3 linked regions of the Homo sapiens genome follow. The protein of the gene in region 2 interacts with the protein of the main gene of each other region in a biochemical or structural test. Each region holds a gene or a part of one and is shown on either strand. Other genes may lie near its edges. The genes, in order: MYLK2, MEF2C and IFRD1.

Region 1 (8,002 bases), on a different chromosome or scaffold from region 2:
CACTTCGCCCAGCCAGGAGGCTTCATTTTAAACCAACTCTGGGGCTTAGTTACTGAGAAAGCCTTGCAGTAGCTGAATTGCGAGTTCTCTGAGGCCCTGAGCCAAGAAGTCCTTTCATGGTGTTTTATAGCTCTTACCATTTTCTCTCTGAAGAAATCTGTGTCCACGTTGATATATTTGGAATTACTTATTGATCTGATTAAGAGTTACAAGTCATTTCCAAAAAAGTTGGAAAATCTAGATGAATAAAGAATAAAAATAATCTCTATTTCTACGCCTGTAAATATGTCCATTTATATCCCTCCAGCCATCTTCTTTGTAAATATTTTGAACAAAAAGGATCCCGCTCTATGGCTGATTTTTATTTAATTTATTTATTGAGACAGGGGCCCACCCTGTCACCCAGGCCATAGTGCAGTGACACAATCATGGCTCACTGCAGCCTCAACCTCCTGGTGTCAAGCAATCCTTCTACCTCAGCCTCCTGAGTAGCTTGGGACCACAGGTGTGCACTGCCACGCCTGGCGAATTTTTAAATTTTTTTGCAGAGATGGGGTCTCACCATGTTGCGCAGGCTGGTCGTGAACTCCTGGGCTCAAGTGATCCTCCAGCCTCGGCCTCTTAACATGCTAGGATTACAGGCATGGTTGATTTTTATAGTCTTTTTTCACCTAAAATGTAATATGCAGTGATTCTATAGCTCTCCCCCAATTTCATCTCTGTGTCCTGAAAGTGACCAGTTTAGTCCTTGTCACAGTAGAGCCCCCAGTAATTAATCTTAGCAATAAAATTCTATAACTGTGGGATGGAACAGTGTGTCAATTGCGTTTTCGGAGAAACCTATGTCCAATTTGCACACAGAACGCCCACAGACCTCTGCTTACTAGCTTGGCTGGAAGGACAGGGTCTGCTGTAAGGACAGCAACCTTACCTAGGGCTTTTCCAGAGGCCTGAGAGGTCCTGCCAAGGCCCTGGGCTCAGGGGTCCAAGGTGGGAGAGGGCGAGAGAAAACAACGTGCTAATGCAGCCTTGAGTGGCTCTCAAACAGGAGCAGAGGGAAGGCTGTGAGGGGAGTTGGCTGCTCTCTTTGGAGTCAGAAAGGTTGTTGCTCAACTCTTTGGATTTTCCATCACAGCTGGGCAGGGAGAGGGTCAGACTGGGCATGACTTCTCCGAACAGGTCCTTTTAAAGCCTCTTGGCTGAACTGATTTCCTCTCCAGAGCCAAGGAAGCAGTGCCTGGGTGAAGTTAACCCCTTCACCCCCAACACATTCTTCCAGAGCTAGGTGAGCCTGGAAGCCTAGGCTCCTGGAAGGCAGAGCTACACAGGGCAAGAGGCCTAAGGAGCCGTGAACTCTGGCTGGAGAAACCTTCCCTCTGGCCTTGTTAAATCCAACAGGCATAATTGCATCCTGCTGACCTTAATTCCCCTGGCGGGTTTAATTGGTCTTGGCATTGCCCCACTTCCTGTCCTGCCCCTGTAGAGGCAAAGAGGGTGTCTGCACAGCTGGTGCAGGGCGGGGAAGCCCCTTCTTGAGGGTGGGCAGGGGCTCTGGCAGCCCCTAGGTGGGTGGAGGAAGTTTCCCCGTGCCCCACCCCTGTGCCTCCAAGGGAGTGCTGAGAAGCTTGGGGACTCCCAGGGAGCAGCTGGCTGGAGCAGGCAGTCCCGTAGATTCGGAACCAGGCCAGACTCTCATCCCAGTGGGAGGCACTGCAGGGGAGCTGGCGGGAACAGATGAACCCTCTACCTGGGGTGTCCACGACATTATCAGGCCCCCACAGTGCTGTAGGTACTGTGCCATTGGGCACTCTTTACATGTGTGCTGGCTAAATGCTCGCAGCCATGCTGTGAGAGGGAGGCAATGGGGCAGAGCAGTTATGAGCAGAGCCTTGGGTTAGATGGGTCCAATCCCAACTCTATGACTTTGCCCTGTGACTCAGTTTTCCTGTCACATCTGTGAAATGGGGATTAAAGAGCTGACATTTATACAGCACTCGCTATGCTCACACTCACTGTTGTAATGCTTTATCTACCTCCTGGGAGGCAGATGCTCTCCTTACGGATGAGGAAACAGGTGAAGACATTGTTCCAAGCTCACAGTTACTGGTCGCAGCGCTTCATTGACAGATCTCCTAATCACTGCATGGTAGGGAGTTGTAAGACTCGAAGGAAGGATACTCATGAAGCTGCTTACCCCAGGGCCTGGTCCATTTTAGAAAGAGTTCAATAAGAGTAATTATTTGGGAATAATAATTATAACAAAAGTAGCACTAATGCCCCTGAAGTTGTCCCAGGCTGGATTTTGGTCTCATTGGGAGGTGGCTCTGGATTTGAATGTGGGTAGTTTGAAGCCATTCACTAGCTGAGTGACTGTGGGGACAAGCCACTTCCCTCTGTGAGCATCAGTTTCCACACCTTTAAAATGGTGTAACATTGGCCCCTACAGTCCCTTCTGAGGATCCAGGGAGCTGGATCTTTGGCATAGTCTGGCCTGGCCGTTGGTGGGCACTCAATAAATGACTGGTATTGATAACCACAATAATAACAAGGAGATGCCAGCAAGGTCCAGCATAGGGAGGTAACAAACTCCAGTCTGGAGCCTTCTGGTTAATCAGTTATTTACTCATCAGACACTGATGGGCAAGTCCACTCTGTGCTGGGGATGTGTTTAGCCCCTGGCCTTCAGGGGGCTCCCAGACAGTGTCAACCAATGGTGGGATCAGCTGGGGCACTGTGGGGAGGCCAGAAGCAGGGGACCCAACATTCCAAATTAAACTAAAACATGCTCTGGGCCAGATAGAGGGCCAGGAGGTCCTAATGATCCGCATTAGGACAGGAAACATTTCAACCTTTTGAATGCTGCAAGATCCACAAAGGGGTTACTCAGCAGGGAGAAGGGGGCAAGGCACAGGCTGGGACATTTTAGGAAGGGAAGAGGGCTTTGGAGTTTGAAGAACGACATTCCAAGCTCAACTCCCTTCCTTGCTGAGTGACTTTGGGCAAGCTACTGATTCCTTTAACTCTCCTCGTCCTCATGCAGAAAATGAGATGAGCGCTCCCCACAGAGTTATCATCAAGATGATGCTTAAAGGCAAGATGGCTAAAACGAATGACAGGTGCTCAGCAAGTGGAAGCTCCCTTTCTGCAGGGGACCTGGGTTCAGAGCTCAGTTCAGCCCCTTCCAAGCTGTGACTTTGAGTAAATTACATAACCTCTCCATGCCTTGGTTTCCCCATCTCTCTAGTACCTACCGCACTGGGTTCTTCTGAAGACCATTTGGGTGGATCAACATGAGAGCATGCAGAGCGAGGCCAGGCACGTGGTCAGTACCGTATAGGCATCAGCTGTTACTTTTGCTTCCTGGAAGAGGCAGACTGTTAACTGGACCTTAAAGAAGAGAAATGGAGGAGAGGAGGACCGGGCCTGGAGAGGAGGGCCAGGCAGAGCAAAAGTAGTCAAGACTGGGGAAAGAGCTCCAACTATGGTTTTTACCAGCTTATACCAAAAACCCTTGACATTTGCTCACAAAACAAAACATCCCACTCATTTTGAATAGTAGCCTGTTCACATAGTTCATGGTTCAAACAGAAAAGTCAAAGTATATACAGTGATGTCTCCTTCCCACCCTTGGGGCCCAGTTCCTTGCTTATCCTACCAAATAAATTCTTATGTGCATAAAGTGAAATATATATTATTCATATATTATTCTCCCTTTTTTTTTTGCACAAATGGATAGCACACTCTACATGCTACTTTGCATCTTGCTTTTTTTATTCCCCCCACTTTGGTGGTCACTTTTTGTCAGTTCATTAACAGCTTCCTCAATCTTTTTTTACAGGTTCCTATTTCCCCACTGCTTAGAGGGGCTGCATTCTCCCTCCTTTCTCTCATCAAGCGTTTTTCCAATGGCTTCCCATTTGACAGAGGAGCCGAGGCCATGGAGTGAAGTGACTGGTTTGCTGCAGTCAGGACCTGAACCTGGATAACCACTCTACAGCTACTTCATTTTATCTTACTTTTTAAAATATAAAGACGGGGTCTTGTTATGTTGCCCAGGCCAGTCTCCAACTCCTGGCCTCGAGTGATCCTCCTGCCTCAGCTTCCCAAAGTGTTGGGATTACAGGTGTGAACCACTGCTTCTGGCCTCTACAGCTACTTCTAATGCACCCAGGTCTGGCCAGTTCTCAAGAGCCCCCTCTGAGAAAGGCTCTGGGTGATGGAAGGCTCCTTGGATCATAGCTGTCCTCATCCTATCTCGAACACCTCAGGCTAGAGTGCCCCTCGGGCCACCCCTGTAGTGGAGCATCCTTGAAAAGACTCTCTGCCAGCCCCCTTCTTCCATGTGGGTCATGGGTGAGAACTGGATGAGCTTGGGGGAGGGGCACAGAGCACTCTCCATCTCCCATGGCTACTCAGGGCAGCCTCCGTGTCCCCAGGAGCCCAAGAAAAGGACAGTTTCAAAAGAAAAAGCTTCCAGGCCTATGGACATGTTGAGAAAGTGCCCCCGAGACAATTTCTTACCCAAAGGTGACGCAAGCAGGTCCAGATGTCGAGGCACAGAGCTAGGCACTAGGGTCAGGGAGATTATCCCTGGGACTTTGTGGCTCTAGCCAGGTTCTGGGGAGCCCCAGGAGATGTGGCACACAGGTGGGCAGACCAGGGCTCAGCCTGGGCATACTCTTGCCCTTCAGGCCTGCCTGAGTACTCCCCTTCTTCCAGGCCCCCTCTGATCCTGTCCAAGTCAGGGATACTGAGCAAGGCCTGGGGAAAGGGCTGCTCCCCCAGCGTCCCAGATACCCCTCCCTTTTCTCGCTTGTTCCAACATCATTCTCCCCCCAGTCGGGCCATGGGAAGAATGCCGTGTCCTCTGAACTGGGGCCAAGAGTGACAGGTGGCGGCAGTCCCAGCTGCATGGCCCCTGGTGTAAGAGATCCTCTCCTCCGTCCCCGCCTCCACTGCCCACACCCCTGCCTCCGCCTCTGCCCACCCGGCCCAATCCCTTACAACTGCCCAGGACTGCTCCTGAGCAGCCGCTGGGAGACAGACGGCAACCAGGTTGCCCCTCTTTGCTCCAGGTACCTCTCTCCCCTCAGTTAGCAGGCCTCGGCTTCCTGTCTCACTGCAGCCAGACGAGAGGGGAAATTGGACAGCCTGACACACTCCACTCTTGTTTCTGCAGCTAGAAAGACTTGAGTTAGACAAGCAGCAGCACACGCCTCCCTACCTCATGGCGACAGAAAATGGAGCAGTTGAGCTGGGAATTCAGAACCCATCAACAGGTGCCAAGCTGGGGCAGGAGATGGAGGGAGGAGCTTGGGAAGGGGGGTTTTGAATCCAGGACTGGGCAGGTTCCTCAGTGGGAGTTCTGTGCCCCAGCCTTGTTTGCATGGTGCACGGGGGACCCAGAAATCAGAGGAATCTCTGGCTAGGGTTGGGCTGGGTCCAGGGCCTGTATGAAGCCCTTCCTGGAGAGACCAGGAAAATGTGAAGCCACCAGGGATGGCTGCTGGGGATGCACCTAAACAGTCAGGGCAAGGATGATGGGGGCCACCAAGGCCCACCCAAAGGGCTGGAAGCCTCCCACAGAGGCCCTCCAAGGTCGTGGCAGCTCATCTCTAGGGGCCATCAAGTGGCCCCAGAGACTCAGTGGGACAAGCATTTGCAAGTTGTTGCCTGGGTGGGAACCTGGGCCCAGAGCTGGTCTCTGCCCAGCCTGGGTGAGAGGGAAGGAAAGGAGGGTGGATCCTGATGGGTGTCTCACCTCCTCTGCAGACAAGGCACCTAAAGGTCCCACAGGTGAAAGACCCCTGGCTGCAGGGAAAGACCCTGGCCCCCCAGACCCAAAGAAAGCTCCGGATCCACCCACCCTGAAGAAAGATGCCAAAGCCCCTGCCTCAGAGAAAGGGGATGGTACCCTGGCCCAACCCTCAACTAGCAGCCAAGGCCCCAAAGGAGAGGGTGACAGGGGCGGGGGGCCCGCGGAGGGCAGTGCTGGGCCCCCGGCAGCCCTGCCCCAGCAGACTGCGACACCTGAGACCAGCGTCAAGAAGCCCAAGGCTGAGCAGGGAGCCTCAGGCAGCCAGGATCCTGGAAAGCCCAGGGTGGGCAAGAAGGCAGCAGAGGGCCAAGCAGCAGCCAGGAGGGGCTCACCTGCCTTTCTGCATAGCCCCAGCTGTCCTGCCATCATCTCCAGGTGAATATCCCCTCCTGGGAGTGGGGAGGGGTCCTGTGGTTCTGTCCCTAGGGGTCCTGCTTAATTCCCTTGTCTTAGGCATGGTTATCATCACATTCAGTGCTGGGGAGTGTAGTTCTGACATTCAGTTTCCTCTGTCCTGTGAATTGCCTCTACCGCCTTGTCCCCTGCAGAAACCAGAACCCTGCCACAATTCATACAAGACTGGAGTAAGAGAGACCCTCAAAGACTGCCTAGGTTGAACATATCTTCTCTAGGCTTCTGGGGTCCGAAGTTCCCCTTACTCCATGGGCTTGGGTCTAGCCAAGGGCAGGGTTGAGATGGCAGGCAGAAAGGCTAAAGGTGTCAGGCAAAAGGCTGTGTATTTCCTAGGACATCCAGTATTTTCCTGTTCTTCTTAATATAATTATTGGTAAGATATGAAAAGATGACTAATAACCAGATTGGAGGATCATTGATAATATTTTCATAACCATAATATAGCACATGTGTGATGCCATCAGTTATACTTACCTGAATGCTAATGAGGTCATTAATGATATATTGTAAGCCACAATAAGAACATTTACCATATCACTTTGATAATTATGTATCAATTATATCACAACAGATTTTATGAATCAAGAGCTACATAACTCCCTAGTTGTATCCACATGATGATTAACCATATCAACAATCCTATTAATAGTTATTAATGATGTATTAGTGTGTTGGTAGTCAAGATAATGACCACAGCCATGAACATCCCTTAATTTTGTACCAGGTGAATTTGGCTGTATTACACCATGCATTTGGGGTGGGGTTGGATTAGCTCTGCAGATTGCATTGAGACTTGCCTGATGCCACAGGCTGTGGCCGCTGAGGGCTTCACCTCTGTGTTCTCACCTTCTAGTTCTGAGAAGCTGCTGGCCAAGAAGCCCCCAAGCGAGGCATCAGAGCTCACCTTTGAAGGGGTGCCCATGACCCACAGCCCCACGGATCCCAGGCCAGCCAAGGCAGAAGAAGGAAAGAACATCCTGGCAGAGAGCCAGAAGGAAGTGGGAGAGAAAACCCCAGGCCAGGCTGGCCAGGCTAAGATGCAAGGGGACACCTCGAGGGGGATTGAGTTCCAGGCTGTTCCCTCAGAGAAATCCGAGGTGGGGCAGGCCCTCTGTCTCACAGCCAGGGAGGAGGACTGCTTCCAGATTTTGGGTAGGCCAGGGGCAGGTGGGGGCTGGGGCTGCCCTGGGGCCAGGGGGAGGGAAGGGGGCTGTCAGTCCCAAGTCTACCTATTCGGAGGTCTGAACTGCCCTGAGCCAAGCCTTACCCAGGCCCATTCATCTAAGGGTCACACAACTCCAGAAAGTATTCCTTTTTTAACGTATGTTTATTCATTTGTTTATTTGTTTTAAAAGATAGGGTCTTGCTACGTTGCCCAGGCTGGCTTCAAACTCCCAGCCTCAAGTGATCCTCCCACCTTGGCCTCCCGAGTAGCTGGGACTACAGGCGTGTACAACCATACCTGGCTTTCTTCAATCTTATTTTTTAAGATGTATTTTTATTTTTAAATTTAGTATTCCCTTTTGATAGATGGGGAAAGGAAGGCTCAGAAAAAGGAAAATGAAGTGCCCAAACATATCCAGTGAAGACAGGATTTGAACCTGTCAGGCCACCCAGACTCCAGAACCCACTTTTGAGTTTTTTCTACTTTGACTAAAATGAAGTTAAAAAAAAGAAAAATCAGGCAGATTATTGGAGCAACACAAACTCCCTGGGCAATGGAATTTGGAGTCAATCTGTAGAAGGGCTCAAATGCCAGGCTTAGTAGCT
Region 2 (7,123 bases):
TGGGTATGTAAGAAAAACAAATCCATAAAAGTGTGTGAGGGCAGACATTCTTTTAAAAAGTGTCTTGGAATTTTGTTTTTTCATTCTCACTTTAGTTAACTTTTAAATGATCTGGGGATGACAGGTATTTTTATATTCATCATTACAAAATGCTAAATTCCACCTTTGGGAAAAAATAAGCCATTTTACTAAAAAACACAATTTTTAAAAAGGTTGAAATAAACAGCCTCCACGCAGCAATGCATACAATATACAGGTTGTGCAGCTTGCGTATATTGCATCACTGTTACCAGTATTCAAGCTTCATATTACCAAAAATCTTTTAAAATAGGATTAGATATAACAATACTCGCAGCCGTGTAAAATGCCACTTATGGATCTTTTACTTGCAATGAAGAATGTTGCCTAAAATGTTACTCTAGGACGGGTTATGTAAAATAATACTCCCTCAGGGCTCTGCCCTAAAGTCTGGAATACAAAGGATTTACTGTGATTAAAAACCATACTAGCTTTGCAAATACAATAAATGGTAAATTACAGATAAGGTATAAGGGTAAAGATAGACCAAGATTGTTTACAGAAAGTGACTCATCAAAATCAAAATTGTGCTTCTTCTCATTAAATCATCTTTTAAAAATTCTCAGATTATCCCTTCCCTATCTTGCCACCACTTTATAAGAATTCAGTAGTGGGAACAAGAGATGACTGGCATCCATTTTCAAGTGATTCTGTTCTCTTCATGTTCTTATAAAACTATTGTCAGAACTGCTATAAATAGCCAAGGCTTCTGCTGGTACTTTAGCTTACTTTATCTTCAGCATTAAAAATTCACTTTTTCTTTGTTGCTGAGGCAAATTGCAGGTTAAAAAACTAATATGGCTATTTCTTCATATTTTCATGTAATGACCCTTTCCCACCCACTGGTATCTACTGATATTGATATACTAAAGTATTTTGAAATGACAAAGAACATTTGTGAAATGTTTGCATATTTTATACACATCAAGTTAGAAGGATGGGTTGTAAGGATGGGATCAAGTCTATGGTGAGGAAAATGATTTTCTTATTTTATTCCCCTGTGCGTGTGTGTGTATGAGTGTGTATATTTTCAGGGATGTTTTTGTTTTTCCTCTGCATAAATGTTATTCTTTCATGTTCCATGGATACCTTGAGTAGTGGGATATATATGAAATGGTTGATAGATTTTTTTTTTTTAATATATAAAACATTAGTACAAGGCAGGCTAGCATCCTTTATGGATACAACCAAAGGTGCATTGTGGTCTAATTGTGGATTTCAGATCAAGTTAAGAAAAATATAGCCTAGTTAATAAGGTCTCTTGGCTTCTGCCACCCAGCGGCAGCCTTTTACAATGAGAAACACATAGCAACTATGCAAGTAAAAGAGAAAAAATGGATAAGAAATGTCCTACACATGATATAGCAGTGTTGATATTACTGCCTATATCTTCTTTGCTGTGTATGTCAATGCATATGATTGGAGATGAATCGACAGATCTTCACATTCCAAGAGAAGGAAAATCTTTCCTAGACTGAAATATCTTTTAAACAATATATATTGACTTTCTTATGGCACTCACTTATTAAAGGGTCTGAAAATTAATCCCTTATAGACGAATATTAGACAAGAGTCATTTTTTTTAAATTAAAAAAAGGGACATAGAGAGGTTCTTTATGGGATTTCTTGAAATGGCTATTAAATCTCTTTATTGAAGAAAAAATAGATGACATACATGCTTTATGCAGAAGTGACATTTGGGGGTCCTGACACACCGGGATTGTTCAACAGTCCTATATTGCTGACAAGATTGTCAAGGGTCAGTTAAAATAATTAAAAACGGATGACAAAGCAACTATCCCTTTACCTGCTTCCTTCTTGTCTAGCACCCAGTCTTTCACATTTTTCTTCTGTGGGAATTTATAACTTATTCACCAAGTAAATTCCATATCACTTGTTTCTAGGGCCATATTTGCAGGACATGTGCCCCAACATAGCTTTTCTATTCTGGGCATATTTCTAAAAAGCGTATCAAATTCTAGGCTGAAAACCAACCAGATGATTTAGAATATGGGCAAGTTAGGATATGCACTTACTGAATTCCAAGATGCATGGTGAAATGGTGAGATCAGAAAGGGGCCCTGCATTTGATAAAAATGCAAAAAACAAAATAAAAATAGCATGAAAGAAACTAGTATATACAATGGATGTCAGTTGACCCAATAGATTGCTAATGTATTAAAAACAATTTAGGGTGTTGCAATGTGATATGTTCTAACCCCACAGGTTATCCTTTTGACAGCTGACCTTAAACTTATAAAATGTAAGCAGAGTAAAAGAAAACAGAAAGAAAATAGTTACTCAAATGTGCAACTGCACAAATATACCCCCCTCCCGCTATTAAGATAACAAAACTTCTGCTATTACCATAATATTATATATATTAGAAAGCTATACACAAGCATGTTAATTTCACAGATTTTTTTAAAAGATTCTTAATATTTTATATAATTAGAAATACACATTTCAAAAACAAAACTTCTACAAAGAGAAAACAGTTATCTTGGTTAGCAAAGCATGGAGTTCTTCATGGCTTAGGGTAGTGCTTTCTATACAAAAAGTCCTTTTTGGTTTTTTACAGGACTGTTTAAAATATTAGCGAAGCTATCAAGGGGAAAAAAACACATTTTGGCTTAAGTAAACTACAAAAAGCCACAAATGCTTTGCAAACTCTGTCTTACCTTTTATATGAAAATAAGCAAAATGTAATGTACATATTTTTATATTTTTATTTAATAAGAGATGCAGACCCAGATTTATTTATTTATTTAATTAAATATGTTAGCCCTCCAACTCCACATTTTTTTTTAATAGGTATGGTCCTCTTTTAATGGTCTCTGATCCTTTTTAATGAGTGCCATACGCCAATGATATGCCTGCAGGTTTGTGAGCATTCTTGGGATGTCAGGTGACCTGGTGTGTTCCTAACATTTACCAATGGCCACCCATTACCGGGTCTGTCCAAGCATCTATACATTTTTCTATATGTTGCATAACAGCTGCTCTCTCTTTCAGTAAAGATCTGCCGCTTTTGGCAAATGTTTCCTTTTGTCTATTTACATGTAAATAACGTTGAACCTGCAACATGACACTATCTATTGTAACATACATTTTGCAAAGGAGCACAACAGTGAAAAGAAGTTAGCCTTAAAATCTATTTTGTACAAGTGTTCTGTTGTACAACTCAAGTGCTAAGCTTATCTCAGCATTTCTGTTTATCTTTATACTGTATCACTGAGGCAATTTAAAAGTACTTTTACAAAACAGAGTACCTGACTTTTTTTTTTTCCACACACGGCACATATAATGCATATCGACCCCCCTTCCCCATTAAGGTATAGCACACACACACACTGCAAGAAAAAAAAAAAAACTAGTAAGTAATAATCTGATCATGTTGCCCATCCTTCAGAAAGTCGCATGCGCTTGACTGAGGGACTTTCCCTTTCGTCCGGCGAAGGTCTGGTGAGTCCAATGGGGGAGTGGAATTCGTTCCGGTGATCCTCTCGGTCGCTCCCGTCGTACGAACTGCTACAGCTGCTCAAGCTGTCAACAGGAGATCTCCCCGCCTCGTGGCGCGTGTGTTGTGGGTATCTCGAAGGGGTGGTGGTACGGTCTCTAGGAGGAGAAACAGGTTCTGACTTGATGTTGAGGCTTTGAGTAGAAGGCAGGGAGAGATTTGAACTCTGAGATAAATGAGTGCTAGTGCAAGCTCTGTAGGAGGAAAGGAAACCCAGTTACAGATGAAGGAGGCCTGGAGGCCCCAGGAACTCACAATTAAATCAAACATCAGCTTAAAGACTCGCATAGACACCAGAGCATGCCCAGAGTGAAGAAAACGTGCTTGGAAGCACATAAGGGCATCGCCTTCTCAGGGCGATTTAGGATGCCTTTGTTGATTTGCCCGGTAGTAATTACAGCATTTAACTGGTCCAGGCCTCATGAATTATATCTCTAGTCTCCGAGAGGCTCCCTAAACATATAGGTTACCATTTCAGAAAGGTTTAAGACACAATGGAAAAAGCATTTTCTGTGTTCATGGACTCTATCCCTAGACTAGTTCTAAAAATTAAATTTCTAAGCATTTAGATACAGTGTTTAGCTCTGGAATTAGACTTCCTTGATTTACTAATGCTTGTGTTTGAATATTATTTTTAAAAGCTTATTATCAATATAAATATTTGCCTCCAATTAATAAGCACATACAGATGGAATCACATAGTCTTCAGAGAAAGTGAAGGGAGTTAAATTTTAAATGACTAGAACTCAAATGCTGCACAATAACTGTATCTGGTAAAAAGCTTTGGAGGTGGAAAAAATGGAAAGGGGGAGGGAAATTGAAAATTATCTGCAGAAAGTTTAAACGTTGGTTTTCAAACACTTAAGACTTTCTACTCCATTAAAACTGATAATTTGACTTTCTTCATCCTTTTGCAGTTACATGAGATGAAAATACTTTGTGTTCCACAATGACCTCAATTTTATTAATGTTAGTCACTCCCTGATGCGTGCGGTTCTTAGGCTACCACTCCTCTTATTTATCATTGGCATTAGTTGATGAATCTGGTGTTGCCTAAGGAAAGCTTGTTGCCAAGAAGGATGTAGTGTGATTTTACTGTGTTTATAATCCTTAATCCTCATATATTCCCAGAGAGAATAATTTTTCCTTTTTCCAAAATCTGGGAAAATTTAGAAACTTGGAATTCTAGAGGAAAAAAGTATTAAGCCCTTAAGTGTAGATTAGCAATCACAATGACTTTGATCAGGATAAACCATAGTGGCATTGCTCGCATCAATTTTAAGATGCTTTTACTCTTCTTACACTAATTACACTGACTTCCAGAGCTAGAGTCAGGATTACTTGACTATATTGTCAAAAGAGCATGGTACTCTCTTTTACTGAGGAAGAATCCAAGTGAAGAATTATCCATACAGACACACCCATTTTAAACAAAGGAAAGCAAGCCTACTTACTAATGTATGTAATTATGCTGCTTTCCAGTGGAGAGAATTAGTTGGCACTAACAATGTCATTATGACCACTGAGAGAAAAAGTATATATTTCAGAAAAAAAGTGAAGTAACTTGGGGCTGGCTTTTTGGGAGATGCAATACAAACTCAAGATGTATAGTGATATAAAATTAGTCAGAAACGAGTTTATCTTTGAGTGATGTTTTGTACAAAAGCACCACCTACTGGCAAAGAATTACTTTCCTTCTCCTATTAATAAATAGATGAGCTAATGTAGAGAATAATATAAAGGAGAATTATTTGTTTCCTTAATAAGCGTCTCTTTCTCTAGCTTTTATGATCTTATATAATCAAAGCAGTGTTAGCATTTATATCAAGAAACTACACTGACTGTATATAATTTTCAAACACCTGTTTATATTTGGAGCTATTTATTTGTAGCTTATTAATTTATAGTCTATCAGTTTACTAATTTTCCAAAAGTTTTAATTAAATAAGCCTTGTTAAAATGGGGAGAGGGAACACCTGTATTTCAAAAGGATTCATAATGGTAGACTATTTTATCTTGGTTCAAAGTTACTTAGTGATTCATTCTGATGTTTGAGGAAATCGTCTTTTGATTTCTGGAATAAAGAATTTTCCTGGCTCTAAGAAAGACCATTTCACTAAAATTTAATTAAATGCTTCTGCTATGAATCACACAACTATTTAATAATGAATATGAATTAGGAGTCTGAAAATAAAAAGTGATATGTCAATAAATACTTTTGCTTGCTCTTTGACATACAGATTATGTCTTCACAGGGAGGGTGACATAGAAAATTAGAAGAAAAAATTGGTGAGTTGGACAGTCTAAGCAGTTAATCTAGACAAGGTAAGGGAAAAATAATATAACCAAAATTCTGTTTCTTTAATACAGTTTTTGGAAGCTGCATTATTCACCTCTTTGCATCATCTTCCTATGTTAACTGGCCTGTATAGGTTTAGCTGTGTATCTTCCCCATGAAAGATGTAACAATTATTGGTTATCCCTTCCTACAAACAGACTAGCTTAAATTTATCTTTTGGTGGAATTTCATTTGACACTGAAAACATACATGAAGCATTTTGAGTAGTTCTGGGGACTAAATCCACAGTAGTAAAATGCAAGTGATATCTTAGATTCAGCTTCATTATACTGTGACATAGGATATAAAATAGAATGGCTAGTCTCTGTTAACAAAGAAGTATTTTCTTGAAAAGAAAAAAGTAGCATTAAAATAACTTAACTGCATATATGCTAGGTTCAGATATAAGCATGTTGGTCTACTTGAGAACAAAATATAGACACGAATAATTATAGACCCTGATAATTGTGAAATACTGCATATGTGTGGGTGGGTGATAAAGAGGTGGGTGGGGAGATAGAAGCCAGATATGCAAGTTACCCATATCAAGTCCTCTATGCAAATTTTCATCTATTACAGATGCTTTTGAATTGGGAAAACTCCTACCCTTTCCCATAATTGTTCAGAAATCAAACATGACTGGATAGTTTTATTCAAAATTTTTACTGCCTCCGCCTGGAAATTAGACTATCAAACTATATTTAACCTAACCTTTTATAAGTCATCTCTACTCAGAGTTATCTCTCTCAGTATGTACTGAACACCCACATCAACAAAGTTGACGTATGGAAATGCTTCCAGAAAACAGGCTGCCCTTTTTATAGGTGGTGGTTTAGAAAAACACTAAAACTTAGTGTTACACTAAATCAAATATTAGTATTCAAAGGACTTTCATTAACTCTTGATGGCAAGTTCCTCTGTCAGCCATCTCTCTCCCTATAGCAAATAAATTTGTGTTGCTTACTTAGCTTGGTTAGATAAAATCAGATACTAGGTTTTAAAAGTATAGCTTTGAAGACTTAAAGCTCCAAAGGACAAAATGAACTTTTTTTCCATGGACAAAATATGAAGAACTCTGTTTATGGTTTTGCAATTTTGAGAAAGAATTGTGGTAACCATCTTGGGCTGCTGGGAATATCTACTTTGGTGGAGCTGAAATATATTCCACTCTGCTATGAACATTGTCT
Region 3 (3,367 bases), on a different chromosome or scaffold from region 2:
TAAATTAATTCACGAGTGAACATACAAGTATGATCACAGCTATGCAAACAGGTACATGATCTAACCAAAATAATATTAGAAGGATGTGAAACAATAAAAGAAATTTTCACCTGTCTTAATAGTAAGTTGACAAACACCTAAAAAATAAATGGCTGTATAATCATATTATTTAGAAACCTAAAACCAAAAACTGAAGGCTGAAAGAACCGAGCTAGAAAAAACTGAAGGCTGAATGTCTCTTGGGATGGGACTGAGGAATAGGAAAGGATGGAGCAAGGGGCTTTCCTTATTAGCCTTGAAGTACCATTAAACTATGTTCAGGCTGGGCACGGTGGCTCATGCCTGTAATCCCAACACTTTGGGAGACCAAGGCGGGCAGATCACTTGAGGTCAGGAGTTCAAGACCAGCCTGGCCAACATGGTGAAACCCCATCACAACTAAAAATATAAATTAGCCAGGTGTGGTGGAACACACCTGTAATCCCAGCAACTCAGGAGGCTGAGGCAGGAGAATCGTTTGGACCCTGAAGGCAGAGGTTACAGTGAGCCAAGATTGCGCTACTGCACCCCAGCCTGCGCAACAGAGGGAGACTGTCTCAAAAACAAACAAAAACCTATGTTCATACAACACTTTAATAAAAATTCATTATTTATTTATAATTACATGTACATACATATATGCATTTGAATATCTAGAAGAAACTACCATTTGCAATCTCTTTTCCATGGTTCTAACCTACTTGGAACATAACCAAGTGACAACATACAAACAAGTTCTAGATTCTAAACCTGTTTTCCACTGCACTGTAACTGGGGGATGGGACTCAGCAACAGTGACTCCATAAGCCAGCAAATGATTTTCACCTAGAGGGAGCACCAGACTTCCAAGAGTTGTTGGGATGTGGGAGGGGAACACTAGTTTGGAAAAAAGACCTTAAATGATTTTGATACTTCTCCCTACAGTATATATGCTTCCCTACCCCTCACGGCGACCTACAGCAAGAGTATCAAAGAAACAAGTCTACGGATTTGAAATGGCATGTTGCTTGCACTATATATTTTAATCTAAAGTTTATTAAATGTTAACGTGTTGTCAAAATGCTTTTCATAAAATGAAAGAAATATACCTCATGGGCAAACAAGCAGCAATATTCTTTTTTGTTTTGCTTTTGAGACAAGGTCTCACTCGTCACCCAGGCTGGAGTGGCACAATCACGGCTCACTGCAGCTTTGACCTCCTGGGCTCAAGTTACCCTCTTGCCTCAGCACCCAAGTAGATAAAGAGTAGAAGCACACACCACCACACTCATTTTTTAAATTTCTGGTAGAGACAGGGTCTCGCTATGTTGCCCAGGCTGGTCTCAAACTGGGCTCATGCCATCCTCCCGCCTCAGCCTCCCCAGAGTGCTGATTATAGGCATGAGCCACACTGCATGTTGCCAAGCAGAAATATTCTTGAAAGTCAGAAACCTTAATCCCAATTATGTATTGCTACATTCTTTTCATCTACTTTAATGTTTGTAAATATACACATAAAGCTTTGTCTCCCTGCCCACCTGGCCTAGTCATTTTGGACTCTGTACCTCAAAGCCATAAATAATATTTCTTCTATTAGAAGAGAAGCACTTTCAGTGTGGAAAAAAATCTTTATTTCAAAGTAAAATGCACAAAGTCTCATACAGCAGATAAAATCAGTGTTACTGCTCTCAGATGTTAAGGTTAGCAACCTTTCTGGCATATGCTAATTCATCATGAACTCCCAATAGCTGAACTGAATGGCTTTTAAGTACAGCTATAAGGTCTCATGGTATAATTCCTTTTGTTGATGCCAGTGACAGGATTTTAAAAGCTACATTCCATTAAAAATTAAAAATACAGCAGCTTTTCCAGGGGAACTAGATCCCAAAATTGTACCCAGAACTCTTGTCTAAGATATTAAGTTAAATATCTTGCATGTATATATCATTATAGTAAATCAGTATTCTTGACAACCACAGTGTAAGAAATTAAACTTTGGCTAATTGTTTTCCCCATCATGAAATCAGTCTTTTGCTGTCTTCATAAATAAATTATGACCAAACATTACAAATACTTTATACATGTTTACTGATTTACAGAGAATATTTAATAATCAGAACTCACCAGTTTCAATAGTATTGTACATTAAATTATAAGCAATATAACCACTGCTACAAAAGTTATCTAAGTTAATCCAGGATAAAAACTGTGTCTAGAGTTTAAATACATTGAAATAGAAAAAAAAATAGAAATTAGAAAATAGTCTTCAAGTTCTGAAAATCTAGAAGAATTCTCCAACATCTGCTCTCTTATCTCGACATTTGCTTCTAGCTTTGGTTCGAGCTTTGAAGGCTGCAGAGTTATATAAATGCTAAAATGAAAAAAAGGAAAAACGTGCATCAGTAAGACTTAAGATATTCTTACAAAACAGAAAAAGGGTAAAAGTCACAAAGAAAAGAAATGAACTAATTTGACCCTATAAACATTTAAATGTTTATAAAACACACACAAAGAATGAAGGAGAAAAACAAAGAGTTAACAGGGGCCATGCAAGGTGGCTCACACCTGTAATCCCAGCACTCTGGGAGGCCGAGGTGGGCGAATCACGAGGTCAGGAGATTGAGACCATCCTGGCTAACACGGTGAAATCCCGTCTCTACTAAAAATACAAAAAATTAGCCAGGCATGGTGGCACATGCCTGTAGTCCCAGCTACTCGGGAGGCTGAGGCAGGAGAATCGTTTGAACCCGAGAGGCAGAGGTTGCAGTGAGCCGAGATCACGCCACTGCACTCCAGCCTGGGCAACAGAACGAGACTCCGTCTCAAAAAAAATAAATAAATAAAGAGTTAATGGCTATTCCATATTAAGAAAAGTACTAATCAAATTGTAAAACGCCAAGAAAGTTAGACGATTTCAAAAACCAACAGTGAAAAATGGACATCAACATTGTTTCATCCAAGAAAAGACAAATCATGACTAATGCAGAAAATAGTCCTACTTGGCTGTCAATTAGAACAAGGAAAAAAGTGATGAAGTGCCATTTTAATATCAATTAAATAAACACATTTTTTAAATTATAAAACTCAATGGTGTCAAATCTTTGTGTAACAGCTACATGCCTTCATTCATTGCTGGAGACAATTTAAATATCGTCTCCAATATAAGAGTAACTTTGGAAAGTAATTTGGCAATACATTATGCAGGGGATTTCTTCAAAAAAATTATTCAAAAGAGAGAAGTATGTAAAAATATTAATGTTTCTTAAAAAAAACTTAAAATGCCGTACAAGAAACAATTATGTGGATATAAAACTGATAAAATATCCAGGTTCTATAAAATGTAATTAAA

What was found.
Region 1: of the proteins of MEF2C (region 2) and MYLK2, one has a biochemical effect on the other in vitro, tested with the Homo sapiens proteins (one study listed by IntAct).
Region 3: the proteins of MEF2C (region 2) and IFRD1 form a complex in vitro, tested with the Homo sapiens proteins (one study listed by BioGRID).

What each region holds. Positions count from the first base shown.
Region 1 is NC_000020.11:31,814,354-31,822,355, forward strand, and holds the start of MYLK2 (myosin light chain kinase 2, skeletal/cardiac muscle), read left to right. Parts: upstream 1-5,002; 5' UTR 5,003-5,075; intron 5,076-5,179; 5' UTR 5,180-5,227; coding exon 5,228-5,279; intron 5,280-5,772; coding exon 5,773-6,193; intron 6,194-7,085; coding exon 7,086-7,384; intron 7,385-8,002. UniProt on the Homo sapiens protein: Implicated in the level of global muscle contraction and cardiac function. Phosphorylates a specific serine in the N-terminus of a myosin light chain.
Region 2 is NC_000005.10:88,719,134-88,726,256, forward strand, and holds part of MEF2C (myocyte-specific enhancer factor 2C), read right to left. Parts: intron 3,793-7,123; coding exon 3,471-3,792; 3' UTR 1-3,470. UniProt on the Homo sapiens protein: Transcription activator which binds specifically to the MEF2 element present in the regulatory regions of many muscle-specific genes. Controls cardiac morphogenesis and myogenesis, and is also involved in vascular development.
Region 3 is NC_000007.14:112,474,452-112,477,818, reverse strand, and holds the end of IFRD1 (interferon-related developmental regulator 1), read right to left. Parts: intron 2,678-3,367; exon of another isoform or gene 2,584-2,677; intron 2,390-2,583; coding exon 2,300-2,389; 3' UTR 616-2,299; downstream 1-615. UniProt on the Homo sapiens protein: Could play a role in regulating gene activity in the proliferative and/or differentiative pathways induced by NGF. May be an autocrine factor that attenuates or amplifies the initial ligand-induced signal.